Linked DNA regions of Homo sapiens: region 1 is linked to region 2. Evidence: fine-mapped expression QTL. Tissue or cell type: whole blood. Region 2 holds a variant in brackets; the other region holds the start of a gene. All regions are shown on one strand. Distances are between the middles of the regions.

Region 1 (4,129 bases), 61 kb before region 2:
TTTGTAATATCTTCTTTGGAGAATGATCAATTCAAATCCTTTTTTTTTTTTTTTTTTTTTTGTTTTGAGATGGAGTCTCGCTCTGTCGGAGTCTCGCTCTGTTGCCTAGGCTGGAGTGCAGTGGCACAATCTCAGCTTACTGCAACCTCTGCCTCGTGGGTTCAAGCAATTCTCCTGCCTCAGCCTCTCAAGTAGCTGGGATTACAGGTGCCCGCCACCATGCCAGGCTAATTTTTGTATTTTTAGTAGAGATGAGGTTTCACCATGTTGGCCAGGCTGGTCTTGAACTCCTGACCTCAGGTGATCCACCCACCTCGGCCTCCCAAAGTGCTGGGATTACAGGCGTGAGCCACCGTGCCTGGCCAATTCAAATCCTTTACTCACTGTGTTGTTGCTGGGTTGTAAGAGTTCTTTACATATTCTAGATGTAAGTCCCTTATCAGACACATGATTTGCAAATATTTTCTTCTAGTCTTTGGGTTGTCATTCCACTTTCCTGATGGTATCTTTCCAAGTGTATTATTTTTTAAATCAAAATTTTAAATATTTCTTTTGCCTCTGTTGTTTCTGAGAGCCGAAGACATAGCAAGTTGAAGAAGCCTTGGCTTTTTGACATTCTGGGACACCTTTCAAGAACACTGAACCCACACCAGGATTGTCACACACTGACAGGGAAAGATGTGTCACTCCAGACCCAGGCAAGCAAACTTGGCCACAGCTGGGATATGTGTCTTGCATCAAAGCAGAAGCAACTGGTAGTTTTGAGGGTCTTCTGACAGACACCCTCCAAACATACTGCTCAGAAGTGAGGTAGGAGGTGAGATGCGACTCTGGAGTCAGGGTTTGGACACCGGACCAAATTCAGGGATGGGGCTGAAGCAGCTTTCCATGAGACATGCTCAACAGTGTGCCATGTCGGTTTACCATTGCCATGGCAACACCTGGGCATTGCCACCCCATTCTATGGTAATGACCCGATGACCCAGAAGTTACTACCTTTTTCCTAGAAATTTCTGCATAAACTTCCCCTTAATCTGCATGCAATTAAAAGTGGGTGTAAATATGCCTGCAGAACCTCCCTGAGCTGGTATTCTCAGCGCACTGCCTGTGGGTTAGCCCTGCTCTGCAGGGGCAGTCACAGAGCTGTAACACTGCCACTTCAGTAAAGCTGTTCTCTTCTACCACTGGTTCACACTTGAATTCTTTCCTGGACAAAGCAAAGAACTCTCTGGGGTGAAGTTCCAATTTGGGGTCACCTGCCCTGCATTAGAGGGACAAGAGTCCCTGGCTGGAAGCTTGAGTTCATTAGACTCCTCCAATGTTGATGAAGTCTTAAGTTATGACTCCCTCTAAGAGATGGTCTCTAAGTTTAATAAACTTCAAGATCTCTGTCAACCTTCAAGTATTCAATTACCCACTCTGAAAAGGGGAGTTCAGTGCTGTAACACTTTTATGGCAAGACATTTTTGAGTCTAAATAAAACACCTTGGGACTTGAAATATATAATGTTGTTATTGTATTAGATGGTAGTGGAATAATGAACTCTTCCTTAATTAAAACTTATTTTTACATATGTAATACAAATGTCAAAATGTCAAGTTAATCTGTACTGATTTCCTTTTTTTTCTTTCTTTTTTTTTTTCTCGTTGTGAGACAGGGTCTCACTCTGTTGCCCAGGCTGGAGTGTAGCGGCACAATCACAGCTCACTGCAACCTCAATCTCTTAGGCTTAGGTGATCCTCCCGCCTCAGCTTCCTGAGTAGCTGGGACCACAGGTGTGTGTCACCATACCCGGCTACTTAAAAAAAATTTTTTTTTGAGACAGAGTTTCGCTCTGTTGCCCAGGCTGGAGTGCAATGGAGCGATCTCGGTTCACTGCAACCTCCGCCTCGCGGGTTCAAGCGATTCTCCTGCCACAGCCTCCTGAGCAGCTGGGATTACAGGCGTCCGCCACCAAGCCCGGCTAATTTTTGTATTTTTAGTAGAGACGGGGTTTCATCATATTGGTCAGGCTGGCCTTGTATTCACGATCTATGAATGCATCTTTTTTCAGTTTTAATCGTTAATGAAAAATACAAGAACATCACAGAACGGAGGTAAATGTATAGGGTTAACAGCGCCTCTAGCGGGGATATCGAAAGGATCAACTAGGCTCTAAGTATCGGGAGCTAGCAGCAAGGGCTGCTCACCGTATGCTGCCATCCGTCCAGGAAGCGAGTGGGAAGCTGGTGTTCTCGGCAGGACGGCGGGAGCATCTGAGGAGAGGACCCAGGTGCGAGGAAATCTCAGAAATGGGAACGGGGAAATTGAAAGCACAGGAGATAAACTTTGCTTGGGTCACAACTAGAACCCTTCGCTTCGCCTTTACGAAAATATTGAGGCCCGTTGCAACCCTAGATGAGGTTGTCTCATTTTCTCGCTGGAGAACTGTCAGGGAACACGGAAAACCCACCCGCGACCCGGCTTCATGCGGCGCCGTCTCCTATGGCAACCGGGAGGAGGCGTGGTTCGAAGGTTAGTCACGCCCCTTTCCTTCCAACCCGAACAACGATTGGTCCGAAGGCGCGGCGGTGGCGCGGGGAGGCGGATCCAGGACCGCAGCTCCGGCTGGCCCGCGCCGCCATTTTGGATTGTGTGAGTTTCCGGGACGTTCGGAGGGTGGCCTCTCTCCCACCGGGTTCCGCATACCCCAGGCACCGGCCCGCATCCAAGTGTCAGGTTGGAGCCGGGAAGCGGCCCTGGTGGTAGCGGCGGCGGGGGCAGGATGAGCGCGGAGGCGGCGGACCGGGAGGCGGCCACCTCCAGCCGGCCCTGCACCCCGCCGCAGACCTGCTGGTTTGAGTTTCTGCTGGAGGAGTCACTGTTGGAGAAACATCTGCGCAAGCCCTGCCCGGGTGAGCGCGGCGCCTGCACCTGGGGAGCGGGACCCGGCCACCGGCGCTGTCCGCCCAGCTTCCCTCCGCTCCCCGCCTTCTCGGTCACCGAAGCTGCGGCCTGGGAGGCGCGCACAGGAGCCCAGCTCCGGCCGGGCTCCTCGCTTCCCTTAAACATGCCCGGGTGGAGGGTCAAAGAAAAGCTCGAAACAAAGGCTCTCCTACCCCCGGAGGGGAGGGCTTGGTGCTGTCATCCTAAACCCTTTGGTCCTTTTTACGATTTACCTTTTTACTGTTGGGGTTTTAGAGGCTGCGAGGCGGGTCTTGTGGTTGCTTGGGTCGGGGAGGCTGACCAGACGCCTCCTTCAACCCCAAGCTGAATAAATTCAGGGAGCTGGGGAGAAACCAGCTGTTGGGTGTTGATCGTGACGCTAGTTATTATCTTAGGTTTTATTTAAACATTTTTTTCTTCAGTGAGGGAATTTTATTGACTCTTATTCCAAAGTTGGGCTGTAAGTTAAAAGAAAATCTTTGAAAGTAGGAACTGCTGCACATTTGCAAGATGGCTTTGTATAGTGATGATAATGATTAATAGCCCAGTTAAATGGGTGTGATTGATGGGGGAGGAGGAAAACTCCAGGCATTCTCAAAAAAGGTATTGGCACAAAAAGGTAAGTTCCTCGGATAGCATTTCTCTAAATTCAAATCTAGATATGGCTTGTTCAGTCTCAGACTGGCCTTCACTGATAGAGACCACTGTGTAAGAAGTTAGTGTACTTAGGCAGTTTTGGCACCTGTATAATGCCCTTAATTCATTCCTTTTGAAAGATAATTTGTTGAGTGCTTTCCGGGTGCCATGCACTGTGCTTAATTGCTCACATCCGTTACCTCCTTTAATTTAATCTTCAAAATGATCCTCTATTTTGCATTGGAAGAAGCAGGTACGGAGAGGTCACTTGATGGAGGTCCCCCTAATTAAGTGTCAAAATAATAGTTCTAATATTTATATCTCATTCTTCTAATTGGCAGTGGTTATTTGCAGAACCAGAAATCTATGACTGTTATGTTCTTCCCCGTAAGGTGCTTTTTTTTGCTTTCTTCCACTCTAATCTGTTACCCTTCCTCCTTACCACTCTTCCGCATCTCCTTTAACCCCCAGGCACACTTCTTACATACGTATTCCTTAGTCATTTTAACAGCGCAGCTGTTTGGATTCCTTTTGTGGCAAAAAAAAAACCCAAACTCCCCCCCCCCCC
Region 2 (4,261 bases):
ATTTCATAAATCAAAGTCAAACCAGACTTCTGGGTACTTATTTGAGATTATTTAGGCCTAATTTTAATAGTCTTTTTATGTCTTTGCAAGTGTGAAGGGTCATATTCTGAAAGTTTCTGTAACGTTATATATTTTTTAAACTCTTTATCTAGACTGTTGGCATTGATCTTGAGACACTTCACAAATCTTGCTTTGATTTCAAAGTAATTTTATTAACTTTTCTACATTTTGAAATCAGTGTGCCCCTTAGAACTTTCTTTCCCCTGAAACTGCCTGAAGGAGTACTCTATTCCTACCATCAGTTTTGGTGACTTACTAGATTCAGATAGCAAAGCCAAAAAACTCACAAAAAAACATACCAGCATAGCCAAATAGTTTGTATGTGTCTGGATATTATGTCTGTCTTCCATAGGAATCTTCTTAAAAGTCTTCAGCTTCACTGGACTAGTACTTTTTACTACATTGACAAAAGGTACCATCCAATCTACACATTCTGAAATACTGTCCCACTCCAAACCTAGATAGATAGAAAAAAGTTAGAAAAGCATGAAGGTTGTACATCAGAAACTATCTTACATATGTCTGATGTACTTGTTGCTGTTTTTGAGATATTTTAAAAGAAACCAAATCATAACCAAGAAGTTTAGCATGTCAAAACAGATTATCACTCTCAAACTATTTACATGACTATGTTGAAGGGAAAAAGGACTTCAGAACTTCTTAACCAGTACCTTCTACATATGAAATTGAAATGGTCAAATCCCAAAGAACTCTTAAAGCAGAACTATAATGTTGATTCATTTCAACTGTATTTAAATTCCATTTGGTCTTTTTGTTGATACACATTCAGGATTGGAAAGTACTTCTAACAGAAAGATAATTACTGAACAGCTAATTTTTTTTTTGCCAAAGTTTTAAATGCATGTTTAGCAGAATGTTAAAGTTCAGAGACTGTAGTCCCATTAGAAGTTGTGAAAAGGTAAGAAGACAACAAATAGAGAGTCTTACCTGAGGCTTTCTTAACCACTTCAATGGAGGTAAAATGGCACAAGGCAGCAGCAGTCAGTATTCTGTACTGGAACTCTAATGAATCAATGGCTAGAATACACAGATCTAAAAGCTAACAGGAAAAACAAAAGTACAAGCAATTTAGGAGAAAGATGAGTACTAAATGTCTCTTGCTAAAACCTTAGGGATCTAGAGATAAATAAGCCACCACCCGGCCAGGCGCGGTGGCTCACGCCTGTAATCCCAGCACTTTGGGAGGCCGAGGCGGGTGGATCACAAGGTCACGAGATCGAGACCATCCTGGCTAACACGGTGAAACCCCGCCTCTACTAAAAAATACAAAAAATTAGCTGGGCTTGGTGGCACGCGCCTGTAGTCCCAGCTACTCGGGAGGCTGAGGCAGGAGAATGGCGTGAACCCGGGATGCAGAGCTTGCAGTGAGCAGAGATCGCGCCACTGCACTCCAGCCTGGGCGAAAGAGCGAGACTCCGTCTCAAAAAAAAAAAAAACAAGCCACCAACCTGAAGGAAGTAGACAAGGAAGGACTGTTGCAATACAGTGTGACATGTACTAGCAGGAAGGGCACCTAATCCAGATTGGAAAAGATAGTGATGGCCTCAAATTGCCATAAATGGGTCTTAAAAGATAAGGGAGCCAGGAAGAGTAGGAGGCAGAGAATGTTCTAGGTATAGG[G/A]ACATTACTTGGAACTCAGTTCACAGTTCAGAACTCCTAAGGTGAAAAATAAATAAGGAGTACCTTCATTTCTTATCAAGAAAGATGAGGGGTGGTGGCTAGAAAGAGGCATGGTCTAGATTGGATCACAAAGGGTCTTTAAGAAGTCAGAATTTTATAGGCTGATTCTTGAAGCTACTGGAAGATTTTTAAATCAAAGTTCCATTTTAAGAAAGATACCTTAGAATGCAGTGAAGCAGACAGACTAGAAGAAAACATGTTTATTAAGCAGTGAGATTAGTTAAAAGGCTGTATAATCTAGGCAATAAGAGCTGAACTAGTAGCAGTGGAATGGTATAGTGTAAAAGGGGTAGATTTCACAGATTTGAGAAGATACTTGTGCAGTGGAATTAAACTTCAATTCTGTTTGTCCTCATTGGTCCAGAAGGTAGGAGAAATGGGAGAAGAGCTGGGAATTGGAAGTGAAATATTACTGTTATATACCTCTAGAAAGTCCACATTGTTTATCGGCTTATCAAAGATTTACCATCACTATCAGAAGGGTATAGCTGCCTAGGACAATTTGGGATGCTAGGAATTCTGGATGAAAAAATTAAGCTTTTAATAAAAAGTTTTATAAAATAAACCAATTTCAGTATACTTAGTGGTTATCCAATTTGAGTATTCATAATGTGCTAGATTTAAGCACCACTGCCCACAAATTTTAACCTAGGTGACTTAATAATTATCCCCAAATGTCTTCCATATGTTAGATTTTCACATCCCACATAGAATAAGAGGGTAGATTTTCTTCACTTTTGTTATATGGCAGATACAGCAGCCTTAAGATTACTTACGAGAAGTAAGCAAGAAAGAATGGGATCTCCTCTTTTTTTTTTTTTTTAATTTTTTGAGATGGAGTCTTGCTCTGTTGCTCAGGCTGGAGTGCAGTAGTGCGATCTCGGCTCACTGCAACCTCCACCTCCCAGGTTCCAGCGATTCTCCTGCCTCAGCCTCCCAAGTAACATGTTGGCTAGGCTGCCTCAGCCGCCCAAACTCCTGACCTCAAGTGATCTGCCTGCCTGCCTCAGCCGCCCAAAGTGCTGAGATTAGAGACCTGAGCCACAGTGCCCGGCCAGATCCTCCTCCTCCTCTACTTACTTACTTTGTTAAATATGCTAGCCTGGAAAAGTTTACTTTGAATTTATGTTCTAAAAAATTTTTTTAACAAAGTAATTTTAATTCTGATATTTAACTTGATAGGCACTCTGTGTATCCAAATGTAAAGACATCATACAGAATAATTCTATGCCATTATAAAGCTTAAACACAACTGGCGAAAAAAATGCTTTTCCCCATTTTATATCAAAAAGAGATACTTTAGTTTGGACTCCTAAAGAATGAAAGTACTCAGAAAAGTGTAAGGACTTTGTTTTTCTAGAAATATTAAGCAACATAAACACTGGGGACAGAACTTTATGCGTCAAAAGTTTTGTTCTAGAATTAAGGAGTGAAGTCAATATGTCATTTTGTGGTATAGCCTATTTAAGACTATATATACACTAAAACCTGTAATTAATAACATTACCATTGAATCAATAAAAATGTCAGTACCTGAGCTATTTGAATGAATGTTTCCTGAGAATACTGAGGTAGAAGAACTTTAGGAGCATCTTTAAGAGCATCAACTTGGAGAAAGAGATTTAGCCAGGAGATGATTGTTACAGGACAAAGTTCCCATTTTAAAGCCTATTAAACAAAATTTAAAAATGCCTGTTAATGAATGTAGACACATACACCACATTATACAGCAGAGCTTAGAGGTTAAGTACATTCCCCATCCAACCATAACCATTGTCAATATTTTGATGCATTAACCTCTTAGAACTGGATCCTAATACCTCAGTTTTGACTTTTTACATTGTAGTATTTGAGATTCAATTATAACTACTTATGTTACTTAGTAACATGGTTTCTTTTTTGCAACTAGGAAAACATAATTATTATTACCTTTAATATAATGAGTTCCATCCTTAAGATATCCTCTTCACTGCAAGCACCATCAGTGACGTAAGCAAACTCTTGGAGTTTAGGAGCATAGATTTCCTTTAAATTGTAATATTTTTATTGAGTACAATTGAGATAGAAATTAATTACAAATGTTCCTCAGTCTACAATGGGGTTACATCCCAATAAACCAAAATATCATTTAAGTAGAAAGTGCATTTTCATTTTCTTGGAGAAATAAGCAAAGACAAAAAGTACATTTTCTTTCTTTTTTTTTTTTTTTTTTTTTGAGGCAGAGTCTCAGGCTGGAGTGCAGTGGTGCAATCTTGGCTCACTGCAACTTCCACCTTCCAGGCTCAAGTGATTCTTGGGTCTCAGCCTCCCCAGTAGCTGGGGTTACAGGTGTGTGCCACTGTGCCCGGCTATTTTTTGCATTTTCAGGAGAGAGAGGGTTTCACCATGTAGGCCAGATTGGTCTCAAACTCCTGACTGCAAATGATTTGCCTGCCTTGGCCTCCCAAAGTGCTGGGATTAACCACTGCACCTGGCCAGAAAGTGCACTTTCAACTTAACA

What was found. PIP is the estimated chance that this variant, and not a neighbour inherited with it, causes the effect.
Region 1: it holds the start of INTS8, and the variant in region 2 is fine-mapped to the expression of INTS8 in whole blood (TOPMed, PIP 0.97).

The regions. Positions count from the first base shown.
Region 1 is chr8:94,820,668-94,824,796 of GRCh38, forward strand. INTS8 (integrator complex subunit 8) reads left to right here and starts at 2,620. Exons shown (of 27, transcript NM_017864.4): 1 at 2,620-2,894. The coding sequence starts at 2,765. RefSeq lists a silencer at 2,657-3,046 and an enhancer at 3,207-3,266.
Region 2 is chr8:94,881,773-94,886,033 of GRCh38, forward strand. It overlaps CCNE2 (cyclin E2), which reads right to left. Exons shown (of 12, transcript NM_057749.3): 8 at 3,691-3,786; 9 at 3,295-3,429; 10 at 1,009-1,120; 11 at 360-517. Among named protein-coding and RNA genes, the nearest start is that of CCNE2, 11 kb to the right of the region's middle. The variant G/A (reference allele first, on the strand shown) is at 1,702.